2 separate regions of the Homo sapiens genome follow, and region 1 is linked to region 2. A link means that fine-mapping ties the variant in region 2 to the expression of a gene that starts in the linked region. Tissue or cell type: whole blood. Region 2 holds a variant in brackets; the other region holds the start of a gene. All regions are shown on one strand. Distances are from middle to middle.

Region 1 (7,825 bases), 66 kb before region 2:
CAACTGCAACTCAGTCAGGTGCCATCAAGGATGGTCACTGGAAAAAAAATTGCATTTCCTGACCAACACACTAACCCATACATTTCCTGTATACTTACACTCTTTCCTAAAGAAATTTCCCAAACAGAAATAAAGCAAAAGGAAGCCCTTGCAATATAATATACCTGTCCCACAAATTTATCTTTAAAATGCAACCTCTTCCCTCCAAAATATAATAAAAATAACATCAGTGGGATTTTGCGATGTACTGAATTTAGTAGTAAGAATACTCTTTGGGGTTACTTCCTTTAACAAAGCTTACTGGCCATTGGAGAAGCTGTTTTCCGTTTGTACTGAAGCAATAGAAAAAAATATTTGCCAAATCAGTTTCACTTTCTGTTAGAGTTAGCCTAACTTCCTAACTCTCTTCTCAGTATCTTACATTTCTCATGTAGTAAGGCCTATATATTGTAGTGACATTATAAAACATACATGAATGTTTTTATATTAGGATCCACAGAACCCTTTTCAAATAACTTTTTCAACATCTTCTGTAGTCCTGAATACCTAAGTATTTGGTTGTTCACAGTCCACATCTTTTTTTAAACCTTTTTTCTAAGGCAAAACTTAAGAATAGCTCCCTCTTAAATTTTAAAAAATATATTTATTATCCATATTAAATATTGAGAAGTAAGCAGATGCATTCACAGAGGGGAAAAAATGGAATCCTTTTTACCCTACACAGTCACAATAGTTGTTTGATATACTATAAAATTTGTTTATAACATATCTGCTTTTTCTCTCCATGCTGTTGTAATTACATTGTGCAGAGTAATATTTAGAAATATCAACAAATAGATGTGTTAAATTAAAAACAAAGTGTCAAACCAACTTCCTTTGCCTACCCCCAAAATCAAAAGGAAAAATCCTAGGCACCTTAACAGCAAACTAAAAACATCTAGACAAAACAATGAGATTAGCATTCCAGGAAAGCAGAAACATTATAATAATTTAATAACAAATTTATATCAACGATCATATGGATGAAAATTTTGAAAAGCAGAAAGCTTTCAAGAACTGCGAGCCAAAATTTCACCAAAAAAACAAACAAACAAACAAACAAACAAAAAAAACACAACTTTCTCTTACTGGGAAGTCAGTATAATTTCAATTCAAAGGATAATTCTGCAAAGGAAGGCTAAACGATCCTTACCCTCCAGCTCTGATCAAGCCCTAGCACAGATTTTACAACTGGAGACTTGCAGGGAAAAAAAAAGTTTTCAACAGACTAGGCCCCAAACATGAAGGATAAAAGTAAATGTGAAAAAGGAATTCAATTTTCAAATATATGCATAAGTATATGAGAATACTTCAAGGATAAATAAAATAAAACAAATTATCTTTAATGACTATTACCCAGGGATAATTTTTAAGACTTTTGGAACAACTACATCCCCGGATTTTATGGAAATATCAGCTCTCAATAAATAAGTTTTCTTAATGCCTATCTGCTTAGACAACCTGCACAATCTTTGCTTGCTCTAATGAAGAGCAGGTATAACTGAGATGGCTTGCCTTTACCCTGTGGTTATCAAGTTCTTATACCAGAGGTATCAAAGTGACATCCTGCAAATTCTAACAAGCCCCCAAACAGTTGTTCCACACATCATTTTAAAAATCAGAAAAATAACATAAAGTTTTAGATTTCTAATCTTTCTTAAAAAATAGGAAGATCGGCTGGGCGTGGTGGCTCATGCCTGTAATCCCAGCACTTTGGGAGGCCGAGGCTGGCAGATCACGAGGTTAAGAGATCGAGACCAGCCTGGCCAACATGGTGAAACCCCGTCTCTACTAAAAATACAAAAATTAGCTGGGTGTGGTGGCACGCGCCTGTAGTCCCAGCTATTCGGGAGGCTGAGGCAAGAGAATCGCTTGAACCCAGGAGGCGGAGGTTGCAGTAAGCCGAGATAGCGCCATTGCACTCCAGCCTGGTGACAGAGTGAGACTCTGTCTCAAAAATAAATAAATAAAATAAAATTAAAAATAGGAAGATCTGGCAATACTGACCCTTCACTCCTACTAACAAACCACTGGAGTTCAGTAGTGCTGACTTTTTAGAAGAGGCACTGCTCTCCAGTACCCAAGCCCTCACCTCTTCCTTCTTTATTCTTTATGGCCCTCATGGGCATTTGAACTTTTTACCCCCATTCTATACATTTCTTACTGCTCCCAACTATCAAATATTAGACACTCTGATATACTTATTTCTCTTCCCCTCGCTGATTCTGATTTATTCTGTGTGTATTCTTTTTTCCCTCAAATCTATTCATGAAACATCCATATTACTGTCTCAGACTCCAAAGACATGGAATTAGTGCTTATCTAAATCCACAGAACCATCTACTGAGAACATTAATATCAAAACCCTAAGAAATTATTGATAACACTCTATGGTCTCATCCATCACCTTTCAGCAAAGCTGTCTCTGCAATGCCACTTTTCTTCAGCTATTTTTTAATTTTCTTTATACCTTTTCTTCAAATACAGAGAATCAGACCATAATAACTTTATGTGACACTTTGATGATGTAACGTTTGGCTCCTCTACATTTCCAATTTTTGCATTAGAATACCATGTTGTGCTAGATTCTACGGGTCTATAGCAGTCACATGACTTGGTTAAAGGCGATTACCGCATGTGGCTTCAGCTTCACACAATTATACAGATATGGTTTAAAACCTACTTGTTCCTAAATAAATCTTCTGACCACTTTGCCCTGAAATAATACTACCAGACCAGAATGCTGCATTTCTCATTTCCACTTACATAGTGGCATCTGGATCCCCTATCTGAAAACTACAGAACAATTCAATTCTTTGCATACAGCTCCTCTTACTCACCTAGAATCACTGAACTTATCACCTGAGAATCTAGAATAATGGGATTTGCAACCCCCCCACCCTCCAGAACCAGGCCCCACCTCACCTTAGTGGTTAACATTAGAGTTTACTACAATATTAAAAGTAATAGTACGATCTCTTTTTCTCTCTGACCCCAAAAAGGAATAGAACTGAACGGAAATAAAAATGAAATGGAGAGTAGGAGACGTACCGCAGATTGAAACCTCGGTTGCTCTTCCTGGAATAAGAGAGAAAAAAAAAAATAGAAAATATAGAAGTTATTTTTACACTTAACATTCAATAATAAGAAAGAAAATGCCGGCGGCAGAGGAAGCGGAGGGTGGGGAGTCAGCCCGACACCCCTTCCTCCCTCCCCACCCCTTGCCCCCACCCTTCCACCCTCGGCGGGATCCGGTAGCAGGGTAGAGGGGTCCCGAGCGCCGCCCCTCCTTCCGGGATCCGACCTGGGCCAGAGGGGTCCCGAGCACTGTCTCCTCCCTGCAGACCCAGCTCGGGCATCTAGGCACCCCCAACCCCTCTCCGCCCTTCCCCGGCCCCCAGGATCCGCGGGTCACGGGAGGAGAGGATCGCAGTCCGAAGGGGCAGGTCCTGAACGCCGTCCCCTTCCCCTGGATCCGGACAATGGGATCCCGGGCGCCCCCCATCCTTGTCCCCCGGATCCTGAGCCGGGGAAGGTGGGAGCGGGAGGCCGCAGCACCCTCCCGCAAGGGAGGAGGTGGGGGTCCCAGAAGCCGCGTGTCTTCCCCCAACCTCCAGTCCCAGGAGGCCGCTCCGGCCAGGAGCCGGAGGGGAGCGAACCGGGAACGCGACGGAGGCACTCCTGGCCCCGAGGGGAAGGGGAAGGAGGCGGCGGCAGCCCGGCCCCCTCCCGCCGTCGCCCCGCTAAGAGCCCCGGCCGCTGTCCCCGCCTGACAACCCGCACGGGAAGGAAGAAGCCCCAGGACTCACGTCGCTCTCCACCTCGATGTCATCGTTATCGCTCATTTCCTACGGCCCAGGGAGCGGCCACTGCAGCGGCGGCGGGGAGGGGAAGGGGTGAAGGGGAGGGGGAAGTCACCGACAACAACAAGCCGAGTCCCCCCCACACACACACTCACTCACTCACTCACTCGCTCTCTCACTCACACACACACACAACACGGGCAAGAACCACCTCCTCACTGCAGCACCGGATCAACGGCGGCACGCACGCCCGGTCGGCCCCCGCCACGTGACCAGGCTCGCAGCGCTGGGGCAGCCGAGACTTGTAGTTCTTGTCCCTCTAACAGACGGCCCGGGTAGCTCCAGAAAAACTACAAATCCCGGAAGAAACCGCATCCAGGCGACGCCAGCCCGGCTTGTTGACGGAGCCCAAGGCGCCTGCGCGTCCCGGGGAGGGGGGGGGGGGCGGGGGGGGGCGGGGAGAGCCGCGGCGCGGCGCCTCCTGGGAGTCGTAGTCCGCAGACCGCGAGTTGTCAGGAGATTTTCCTCCCGAGGCGGCAGAGGAGGCTGCTGGGAAGACAGGACACGTGGAGGGAGCTGGAACTCCTGGAGCCGGGCACCGTCTGCGCGCTGGACGCCGGGCCCAGGGGACTGGGTGGAGTCTCTGGGGGAGTAGCCGGCTGTCTAAATAATGCTGCCTCTCTTTGGTGTGACTGGTTATACTTTGTCTTCTTCATACGGAGTGGTTCCGTTTTGCGCCTAGGGGCGTAACCCGCCCGGGAGGGAATCTGGCTGCGGCGGACCAGGGGGCGCGGCTCGGGATGCCTGCGCGAACCCTCGGGGGCTGGTGGGGAGGTGTCAGTGGCAGGTGTTTCGTGGTGCTACCGGACAGGCAGAATGACCGACCTCGCCGGGCGACCGCTCCCAGCCGCGAGAATCCTGTATTCGTTTATCTGGGAGTGACCATCCTCGCTACTCAGCTACTCACGTGAGGCTCCAGCGTTCACACAACGCGAACCCTCAACCACTATGGACGTGGAAGTAAAAGCCCCTTCAGAGTTTGTTGTAGCCCAGACAGTTTAGGCAATATCCCAGCTCAGAGTACCATAATTAAGATTGCAAAAAGGATCAATATGGGAAACTTTTGCAGTTCCCTGTCCAGTTAAAATCATATTTATATACTGTGGCATGAAGTGTAATCACATGCATTCCACCGATATTTATTGAACACCTAACTTGCCACAAGGGGATGCCATAACGGATAAGACCAAAACCATCCCTGCCTTCATGCAGCTCACAGCTGTGCAAGCAAGCGTGCCGGTCCTGCCGCCATTGTAAGAGTGTGCAACAAGTCCCATGGGAAGGAAGAAAACCATAACAGACACTTTCCACCCTGAGACAAAGTACCCATACTACTCCTTTACATCTGGTCTCCAAAGTGAATGACATCTTGAGCTTTTCCCATGAGTTACTGATTCCCGGATGAATACCATATTATCCCTGACTTTTGAATGTGGAAATTTGGGGATATGTCACACACAATTCTTGTGACACACATTCCTCAACGTGAGCATGTCATCTATGCTGAAAAGACAAATGTAAATGTGGTAATTTTTCCTTTACATTTTTTCCTTTAATATCTATTGTATTTCTTTCTCTCTCTCTTTTTTTTTTTTTTTTTTTTTGAGACGGAGTCTTACTTTGTCGCCCAGGCTAGAGTGCAGTGGCGCAATCTTGGCTCACTGCAACCTCCCTCTCCCGGATTCAAGCGATTCTCCTGCCTCAGCCTCCCGAGTAGCTGGGGCAGGCGCCCGCCACCGCGCCCAGCTAATCTTTGTATTTTTAGTAGAGACAGGGTTTCACCAACTTGGCCAGGCTGGTCTCGAAACTCCTGACCTCGTGATACACCCGCCTCGGCCTCCCAAAGTGCTCACGTGCTCACGCCTATAGCGTGAGCCACCGCTCGCGGTCTAATATCTGTTGTATTTCTTATTCAGTGATCCAGTCCTACTAAGTCTGCACATCTTTGCAAGTGAACTTACCTTTTCTACATGCTTTTGTCTCATAGTGTTCCTTTCCTGCTGAGTTGGGGAGACAGATATAAGCAGACCATTATGTGATAAGAGCTGATGGGCTATTGGGGAGACAGACGGCCACTTTTGAGTGAGTTAATTAACTGGATACTAGAAGTTAAAGCTAATTGATGATTACAACAGACAGTTCTTGGGTGCCTGCTATGAACAGAGCACTCTAGGGCAACCCCGGCTACAAGTTAAAATCATCCTAGGAGCTTAAAAAAGTTCCCATCCCCAGGCCACACCCCAAACCAATTAAGCCAGAACCTCTGAAGGGGAGATCCAGACTGAAGGATTTTTTTTTCCAGACTGAAGGATTTTTTAAAGCTCTTCCAGTAATTCCAGTGTGCACCCAAGACTGAGAACCACAGCTATAGACGATGCCAGAATAAATAAGATAGTTTCCCATTGAACTGTATGCTTTTAAAGAGTGAATTTTATGGTATGTCAATAACTATATTCCAATAAAACTGTTATAAAAGAAAAATAAGATAATCTTTACCCATGTGGAATTTAAAACCTGACAGGAGTAAATTATCAACTCAAATAATTGTGATGAAGACAAATTATGTAAGTGTCAAATTGTTTGTATAGACAGTGAATGCTGTAAGAGCTCAGAGGAGGAAGAAGGAGTGCCAGGTATGAGGTGGGGTTGGGGAGGTGTTGGTGACCAGGGAAGTCTTCTGAGGTTGTCAGTTGCATTAGGGTAAGGGCTGGGTCTGCAAAGGCCACGTAACATTTTGCTTATCGTGAATAACGTGGACTGAGGTGAGGAGGAAAGGCTTTCCTGGTAGGGAGACTGGAGATTTTAACACATCTCCTTTTAGGAATCAATAGAATATGAAGACCTGTCAACCTGATTAAGAAATTTGACCTAATAGACATAACACTGCACCCAACAGTTGTAGAATATGTTGTCTTCAAGCACTCATGGAACATTTACAAAAATTGACCATGTACTTAGCTATAAGGCAAATCTCAACAAGTGGTTTTTTTTGTTTTGTTTTGTTTTTTTGAGATGGAGTTTCGCTCTTGTTGCTCAGGCTGGAGTGCAATGGCGTGATCTCGGTTCACTACAACCTCCGTCTCCCGGGTTCAAGCAATTCTCCTGCCTCAGCCTCCCGAGTAGCTGGGATTACAGGCATGAGCCACCACGCCCGGCTAACGTTGTATTTTCTGTAGAGATGGAGTGTCTCCATGTTGGTCAGGCTGGTCTCGAACTCCTGACCTCAGGTGATCTGCCTGTCTCGGCCTCCCAAAGTGCTGGAATTACAGGTGTGAGCCACCCTGCCCAGCCAAATCTCAACAAGTTTTAAAGGACTATAATATTAGTGTATTCTTGGACCTAGTGCAATTAAAGTAGAAAAATAACAAAAAGTTAACTAGAAAAGTCTCATACATTTGGGATTTAAGAAACTTTTAGGCCGGGCACAGTGGCTCACTCCTATAATCCTAGCACTTTGGGAGGCCAAGGCGGGAGGATCATTTGAGATCAGGAATTCGAGACCAGCCTGACCAACATGGGGAAATCCCTTCTCTACCAAAAATACAAAAATTAGCCAGGTGTGGTGGCACACGCCTTTAATCCCAGCTACTCGGGAGGCTGAGGCAGGAGAATCACTTGAACCTGGGAGGTGGAGGTTGCAGTGAGCCTGGGCAATAGAGTGAGACTCAGTCTCAAAAAAAAAAAAAGCAAACTTTCAAATGACCCAAATGTAGGGATTTTCATGAGTGAGGCACATACACACAGGAAAGAACGAGGCAGATGAGAAGTTTCCTTAGTGTTCCTTTTCAGTGTTTCTCTGAGGTGCATCTAGGACCGCAAGAATTCATTTTCATCCACACTTGAGTGTCTTTGGTAAAACCCCAGGTGAGCTTATCGGGGCTGCACTGCAAACACATCACAAGGAAGCTGGTAAGAAATACAGA
Region 2 (7,825 bases):
ACAGGACTACTGATGTGCCAGTTCCAGCTCTTTACTCTCTCTTTAAGAGAGAAAAATATGAATTAATTAAGGTGAATGAAGTAGGAAGGGGCCAAACTGAATTGATGACTTTTAGATAAAGCATCAGTTTTGAAAAAGAAAATTGCAGCATTCAAATGATAATAGTAAACATCATCCTGTAGCACTTTACATATTACAAAAAGCACTTGGCCTACACAGTCTTCTTCAGTGCCTCGGACCACCCTATGCAGGTGTAAGCATCACAGTCTTCTAGGTGCATGTGTGGAGTCTGCAGTCACAGAGGAGTCGCCACTGGACAGGACTGGCCTGGCTGTAGTACATCTGTTGTACCCAGGGACGGGGAAGCCTCAGTGTGAAGGTTGCAGGGAGCCCAAAGCATCTGAGCTCCAACTGACTCTCTGACTTTGGACAGGTCACAAAACCTTCCTGTGCTTTAGGGATAATACTGGTACATGGCGTCAGGACATGGTGTGGAATGAAAAGAGAGGATGCATACAAAACACTTAATAGACTGCTTTTCAGGTAGTAAAACACTTAGGCACTGTTAGCTCTTACAACACCAGGCACCTGACCTGAGGGTGAAGGCAATGCTCAAGGTTGTGTAACTAGTAAGGACAAAGCCAGGACAGAAGTCCCACCTCCTCCAACCCAGGGTCTCTGCCTCTGACGAGGGACACCTGTCCCCAGCTGTCAGTGCTGACAAACCTTCCAGCCGTGCTAATCATGGCTGTCATTCTTACTTAAGTGCTTGAAGACTAGTTTTTAAGAAATTCCAGCCAGGTGCGGTGGCTCATGCCTGTAATCCCAGCACTTTGGGAGGCCGAGGCGGGCGGATCATGAGGTCAGGAGATCGAGACCAGCCTGGCTAACATGGTGAAACCGGGTCTCTACTAAAAATACAGAAAAATTAGCTGGGCGTGGTGGCAGATGCCTGTAGTCCCAGCTACTCGGGAGGCTGAGGCAGGAGCCTCAGGCGTGAACCCAGGAGGCGGAGCTTGCAGTGAGCTGAGATTGCACCACTGTACTCCAGCCTGGGCGACAGAGCGAGACTCTGTCTCAAAAAAAAAAAAAAAGAAATTCCTTCTTGAAATCCTGTTTATGCTATTAATTTATTTAGTGGCCAGGTGCAGTGGCGGCGGCTCATGCCTGTAATCCCAGCACTTTGGGAGGCCGAGGTGGGTGGATCACCTGAGGTCAGGAGTTCAAGGCCAGCCTGGCCAACATGGTGAAACCCCATCTCTACAAAAATACAAAAATTAGCTGGGCATGATGGCAGGTGCCTGTAATCTCAGCTACTTGGGAGGCTGAGGCAGGAGAATCACTTGAAGCCGGGAGGTGGAGGTTGCAGTGAGCTGAGATCGCACCATTGCATTCCAGCCTAGGTGGCAGAGCAAGACTCCATCTCAAAAAAAAAAAAAAAATTGTTACTAACTCATTTTTCTTAAAGAGCTGACAGTTAACTTCAGCCAAGTGCTACCCAGGGCTCATGATCTGAATCTGAGTGCTCAAAATCAAGTAGGTTTATGGTCCTGAGCATGTTAAAGCCAGCATGTTTAATAGGAGTTTAATAGGAGAGGAGTAGTAGAGATTCTGGTTCTGTTTGAGGCAGGAAGTTCACATGTAGGGCTGATATTGTCAGATTTTCTGATTTTCCAAAAGAAGCATGAAGTCCAGATTTTTTATGTGAAATATCTCACTTGATAAATCTTAACTAATTTATATTGTGTAAAAAAAGACCACAGGGACCAGATAAAACATGTTTGTAGGACACATTGCTCTGTGGCTACTAGTTAGTAACCCCTGAAAAAGCCTTAAGGTAGGATGAGGCAGGGCAGGGCAGCGTAGTTGTGGCACATGGTTTGTGTTCCCAGGGGCAACAAGAGTAATTCCATTTCAGTTTGGAGATCCTTGTCTAAAGCCAGTACATTTTGCTCAATTGATCATTATTTTTCTTTGGCTGAGTTAAGTAGCATTCTTCGCTCTTTCGCTAAAGGATCAATTCCTTGTCTCAGGAGCATTTGAAGCTTCTGGATGAGGATTAGAATGATTGAAATCTATCTGTGACCCTGTGGAGTGACTCCAGGCAAGTCTCAGATGCCTCTAACCCTCTCCATCCAAAATGCCCAATGCAGCTAGGTTTCTTTTAAGATCAGCAATGATTATTGTTTTTCTCTCTATGCAGAAACTTGCTTCAAGAAGGAGTCTCTACCTTTTAAGTGCCAGGCTAGGAGCCTCTTTATTGGACCACATTAGATCTTCCCTACAGCCCAATTTTGAATTATTATTTTTATTGCTTTCTTATTCTTTAACACTCAAAAATCTTTGGAAACATAAAAGCCTGTGATGTAGTTCATGTTGTGAGTTAAGGGAGGTACAAGAAGTGTGTCATTTCAGGTCCTCTGAGAAACACATGCCAAGATGGAATTAGGCAGAGCATAAATGCACGGGGGAGAATGTATGTGAAGGATATAGGGTGTGGGAGCAGGAGTGGTGAGGACAGCCCTCAGGCAGCAGTGCAGGCCTGGCACTTGCTGAAGGAGAGTGGAAAGGAAAGAGAGTTGGGTAGGAAGAATCTAGACTACAGCATAGCTCCAAGAAAGCCACAGCCAGGCTTATGGGAAGCCCAAGAACAGAGGAGTTGCCACTGGACAGGACTGGCCTGGCTGTAGTACATCTGTTGTGCCCAGGGAGGGGGAGGCCTCAGTGTGAAGGCTGCAGGGAGCCCAAAGGATCCATAGTGTAAGGCTGTCATCCTGCTACTCCTGGTAGCAGGTTCTCTCAAAGGGAGATCAAAGTGAGGTAGGAGGTGAGACTTTACTTTGAAGGCAGGGTTCAGATACTGGACCAAATTGGGGACTAACTAAAACAAGTCCAGGGCAGAAGCACCACCCCATAAGACACGCCCATCACTGTGCCCTGTCAGTTTACCATTACCATGGCAACACCCAGAAGTTCCCACCCCTTTCTGTGGCAATGACTTGACAACCTAGAAGTTACCACCTCTTTTCTAGAAATTTCTGCATAAACCACCCCTTAATTTGCATACAATTCAGAGCAGGCATAAAAATGAGTGCAGAACTTCCTCTGAGCTGTTACTCTGGGCCCACTGCCTATAGGGTAGCCCTGTTCTGCAAGGAGCAGTACCTCTGCTGCTCCTGTGCACTGGGCGCTTTCATCAAAGGCTGTTCAACACCATTGGCTTGCCCTTGAATTTTCTCCTCGGCAAAGCCAAGAACCTTCCTGGGCTAAGCCCCAATTTGGAGGTTCATCTGTCCTGCATCAAAAGGTGCTTTCTTGTGACCACCACAATCAGCAGGAAGGTTTTCGTGATTTCATAAATATGTGGTTATTTTTACTTATTTTTATACAATAAGAGGGAGGAGATTGTGGGGGTTCAAAGTTAGTCCTGGCTTTGTGGCTCCATCACTGTGCTGGCTGTGACCTTAGGCAAGGAGCTAAATTTCCTTATCCCTTTTGTTTATTTACTCGTTTATTTTTGTTTGTTTATTCGTTTGTTTTTTTAAGAGTCTTGCTTTGTCACCCAGGCTGGAGTGCGGTGGTGTGATCTCGACTCACTGGAACTTCTGCCTCCCAGGTTCAAGTGATTCTTGTGCCTCAGCCTCCCGAGTAGCTGGGATTACAGGCACCCATCACCACTCTTGTCTGTTAATTGAAAACAGTGAAAGTATCTCTCCCATGGAATTACTTTGAGAGTTTTGATAGAAGGTATGCAAAGTGCTTAGCACAGTGCCAGGTACCTAGCAAGTATTTTTACTTTGGAATATATTATAAGATGAGATCTAGGCTAACTATCCACTGATGATTACTTTGATTTTAGAGGGTCTTGTTTTTTGAAATGATATTGTTAAGGTGAGTCTGGTCAGTAGGCAAACTGAAATGCATGTATGGACAATGACCCCCAGCTCAGCCTGAGTCCCCCAGCAGCACTCTCCCACCAACCCTGTGAGGTAGGTTTTATTATGTTTAGTTTACAGATGAGCAAACTGAGGCCCAGAAAGATCTTGGTGATTTTGTGGAGCAAGTCATTCAGGAATGACCAGAGTATTGCATTGCATCCCCTTAGTTAATGATGGGCAGGTGACCCAGTAAGAACCAAGGAGATGTGGTGAGACTGCCCAGGGTAGCTGCGAAGATGTTGAGCTCTTTTACTAATGGTCTTGGACCAGGGAGAATGTGAGGCTGGTGATGCTGAAGCTGTCTTACCTGCACAAAGGTAAGCCTCTCTGAGAATGTGGCAGAGGCAGAAATATTTGGCCTTGAATGAGTGAATCTAATAGCCATCCAAACCCTTTCTCCTATAACTGCTCTTTTTTATTTTTTAATTTATTTTTGTTTTATTTTATTTTTAAAAAATGTTTGTGGGTATATAGTAGGTGTATATATTTATGGGGTAGATAAGATGTTTTGATACAGGCATGCAATGTGAAGTGAGCACATCATGGAGCTCTAACTACACCTGAGGAGATTGCTAGTTGTTTCAAAATACCCCTCTTCTTCATCATGTGACTAACAGAACTCCTCAAGTTTTAGCTGGGCACATGGCTACCCAAGTACTACATTTCCCAGCCACCCTTACAGCTGGTTGTGATCATGTGGTTATGTTCTGACCAATAGCATATGGGCAGAAGAGAAGTGATGAATGCAACTTATGCATTGCATCCTTAAAAGAAAGCTTCTTGCCCTTCTCTTATACCTTCTCCCTTCTTGGCTAGGATATGACAAC[G/A]GAGTGACTGGTCAGACTGCAAGGAAGAGGCAGAACCCTTTCACAATCTTGGGTACGGTTTGTTCTTTGACTGTTATATGAGGCAAAACCAAACCAAACAAAAAACACTGCTTCTACTGCAGGGACCAAAAAAGCTTAAAAACGTACTTTCCCAGCCTCCTCTGTGGCTAAAGTGGCCTCATGGCACTGATGTATTCAATCAACTGGAAGCAGAGGTCAGCTGGGAACTTTGGGGATTGATTTACTTTTCTGGATAAAAAAAAAAAAAATCGGAAGTTAGCTAGCCTCTTCTTTCTGCCTTGAATGTCTAGAGCTGGACCTGTCCTCCTGTGACCCTGAAGACAGTAGAGCTGAAATGAAGAAGGAGGCTGGGTTCTTGATGACATTACTGAGCTGCTGCATAGTAACGTCATCTATGCCTATTCTGGGCTGCTTGTTGAATGAGAAAAATAAACCTCTCTCTGGACTTCTTATGTGAGAAAAACAAACCACACTTTGTTGAAGCCTCTGTTAGCTGAGTTTCATGTTATTGCAGCCCAAATGCCCAAATATCAGTGAAACTTAGTGGTGTGTCAGACAGCCCAGATGTTGATGATGTCATCTGGCCTTCTGAATACAACTGTGCCTGAGACTAAACCCAAGCCCCTGGACTTTTCAGCTATTAGAGAAAGAGTAAGTTCTCTTTCTGCTTAAGCAGTTTAGGCTGGATTTTCTGTGGCCTGGATGGAAAGACCCCTGATACAACTATGAACCAATAGCAACTAGATACATTCTGTTTTCACCTCCTCTTAGTCTCTCCCCTGATTTTACGGTTAAAAAAAAAAAAAAAAAAAGTAAAATTAGAGCAAGGAAAGAAAGAAGAAAGGAATAAAGAAGGAAGGATAAGATAAGAAACAATAGAAGACTTGAACTAAATTAAAAGAGGTTAGAGGCCAGGCACGGTGGCTCATGTCTGTAATCCCAGCACTTTGGGAGGTCGAGGCAGGTGAATCACGAGGTCGGGAGATCGAGACCATCCTGGCTAACACGGTGAAACCCCGTCTCTACTAAAAAAAAAAAAACAACACACAAAGAAATTAGCCGGGCATGGTGGTGGGCGCCTGTAGTCCCAGCTGCTCGGGAGGCTGAGGCAGGAGAATGGCATGAACCTGGGAGGTGGAGCTTGCAATGGGCCGAGATCACACCACTGCACTCCAGCCTGGGCAACAGAGCGAGACTCTGTCTCAAAAAAAAAACAACAACAACAACAACAAAAAAAAAAACAAAAGGTTAGAAGCTTTTACAGTTCCTTTGTTTGGAAACCTGGGTCCTAGTGTCCCTTGCGCAGGATGCTCGTTTCTGACTTTTGTGGCCTGCCCTTGACACCATTCGAGCATATGGATTTCAGTGGGTAGTGTGACTCAGCTTCCCATTCCCAAAACTCCAGAGCCACATTGCTGGGTCCCTTCACTCTGCTTTACTCTCCTCCCAAGACAGACGTAGCATGGGCCACGTGAATTCATCCATGTCCTGAACTAATCTGGTTGTTCTACCAGGTTACTCTTAAGTTCATGGGCCATCACCCCCTTGTACTTACTGAGCTCCAGGGTTTTCATCTCTTCTGAGAATCGACCGTTTAGTCCAATCTTAGTACAGACCAGCATTAATAGGCAATTACCACAGGGAGATAATACAGAGGGAAAAATGGCTAAAAATATACAGTGAATCACAGAAAATTACATCTCTTAAAACCTACAGTGTATTCCTATTGCCATAGCAACCCTTGGCTAGTAAAGACAGAGATGATTTATCACAGGCTTTCCCCGGAGCTCGGTTCTGCCGGAAGCACCTCCAGCCTGTGGTGAGTTCCAGCGAGGAGGGCAATGCAGACATCATACAACCGGGTTTTCTCTCCTCCATCCCTTCCAGTGGCATTTCTGCGGCAAGAAGACTTGAGTTCCTTCTATATAACCCAGGTCATCTCCCGGCCCCTTTTCTGAGATGAAAGTGGCTGTCTCTAACCTCTGACAACGCGGCGTCCTGCCGACACGATGTGAATGCCAGCGGCAGCAGTGCGCTGACTTCCAGGAGGGGGCAGTGGGGCTGGGGGACATGAGGAGGCTGTAGGTGCCAGACCGTCTGAACAAATGAGGAGAGGAGAGGAGTTCTTTCTCCTCCTGTTCCTTTTCCTCCCTACTTCTCTCTCACCTTCCCACTTCCCTGACTCTCCTCTCTACCCTGCTACTTCCTCAGTAGGTCTACTGTGAAATGGACTGGACATACATCAGGACCGGGAGAAGAGAGAGGAAGTCATGTCCTCACTTAGGAAATGAGTCTGGTCTTTAGGAAGATTATAAAATGTATGTAAATAAACATCTTGTTATTTCGTTGGAACTCTAAAATTCACTGGCATAGATGCTGTGCTTTCTCATAATGTTAAAAATTAGATTCTTGAATGCTGTTTAAACATTCATAATTTGGAGAAATAGCCTGGACCAGAGTTTTGGAGAATCCACCTTCAAAAATAACCCTAGCTGGGGGGCAGTAACATGCACCTGTAGTCCCAGCTAGTCAGGAGGCTGAGGTGGGAGGATTGCTTGAACCCAAGAGTTTGAGGCTGCAGTGAGCCATGATCACCTCTGTAAATAGCCACTCTGCACTCCAGCCTGTGCTATGTAGTAAAAGATACCCTGTTTCAATAAAAAAAAAAAAAAAAAGAAGAAGAAGAAGAAGAAGCTGGAAGGAGCTCCCATTCAAATCTTGGACAATCTGAACTTTTAAAAAATAATAATAATAATCAACTGGGCACGGTGGCTCATGCCTGTAATCCCAGCATTTTGGGAGGCCAAGGCGGGTGGATCACCTGAGGTCAGGAGTTCGAGACCAGCCTGGCCAACACGGTGAAACTCCATCTCTACTAAAAATACAAAAATTAGCTGGGCATGGTGGTGAGCACCTGTTTTCCCAGCTACTCGGGAGGCTGAGGCGGGAGAATTGCTTGAACCCAGGAAGCGGAGGCTGCAGTGAGCCGAGATCACACCACTGCACTCCAGTCTGGATGACAAAAGGGAGACTTCATCT

Which allele goes with the higher level. Alleles are on the strand shown, and positions count from the first base shown. SD is a standard deviation of normalised expression in the study named.
For the expression in whole blood of the gene that starts at base 4,062 in region 1, allele A in region 2 goes with a higher level than allele G (small effect, 0.25 SD a copy in GTEx).

What was found. PIP is the estimated chance that this variant, and not a neighbour inherited with it, causes the effect.
Region 1: MAX starts here. The variant in region 2 is fine-mapped to the expression of MAX in whole blood (GTEx, PIP 0.98).

What each region holds. Positions count from the first base shown.
Region 1 is chr14:65,098,456-65,106,280 of GRCh38, forward strand. MAX (MYC associated factor X) reads right to left here and starts at 4,062. Exons shown (of 5, transcript NM_002382.5): 1 at 3,849-4,062; 2 at 3,091-3,117. The coding sequence starts at 3,884. RefSeq lists enhancers at 3,133-3,633, 4,327-4,476 and a silencer at 3,647-3,996.
Region 2 is chr14:65,164,312-65,172,136 of GRCh38, forward strand. No RefSeq gene overlaps it. Among named protein-coding and RNA genes, the nearest start is that of LINC02324, 54 kb to the right of the region's middle. RefSeq lists enhancers at 4,936-5,035, 6,599-6,658, 6,679-6,848. The variant G/A (reference allele first, on the strand shown) is at 4,766.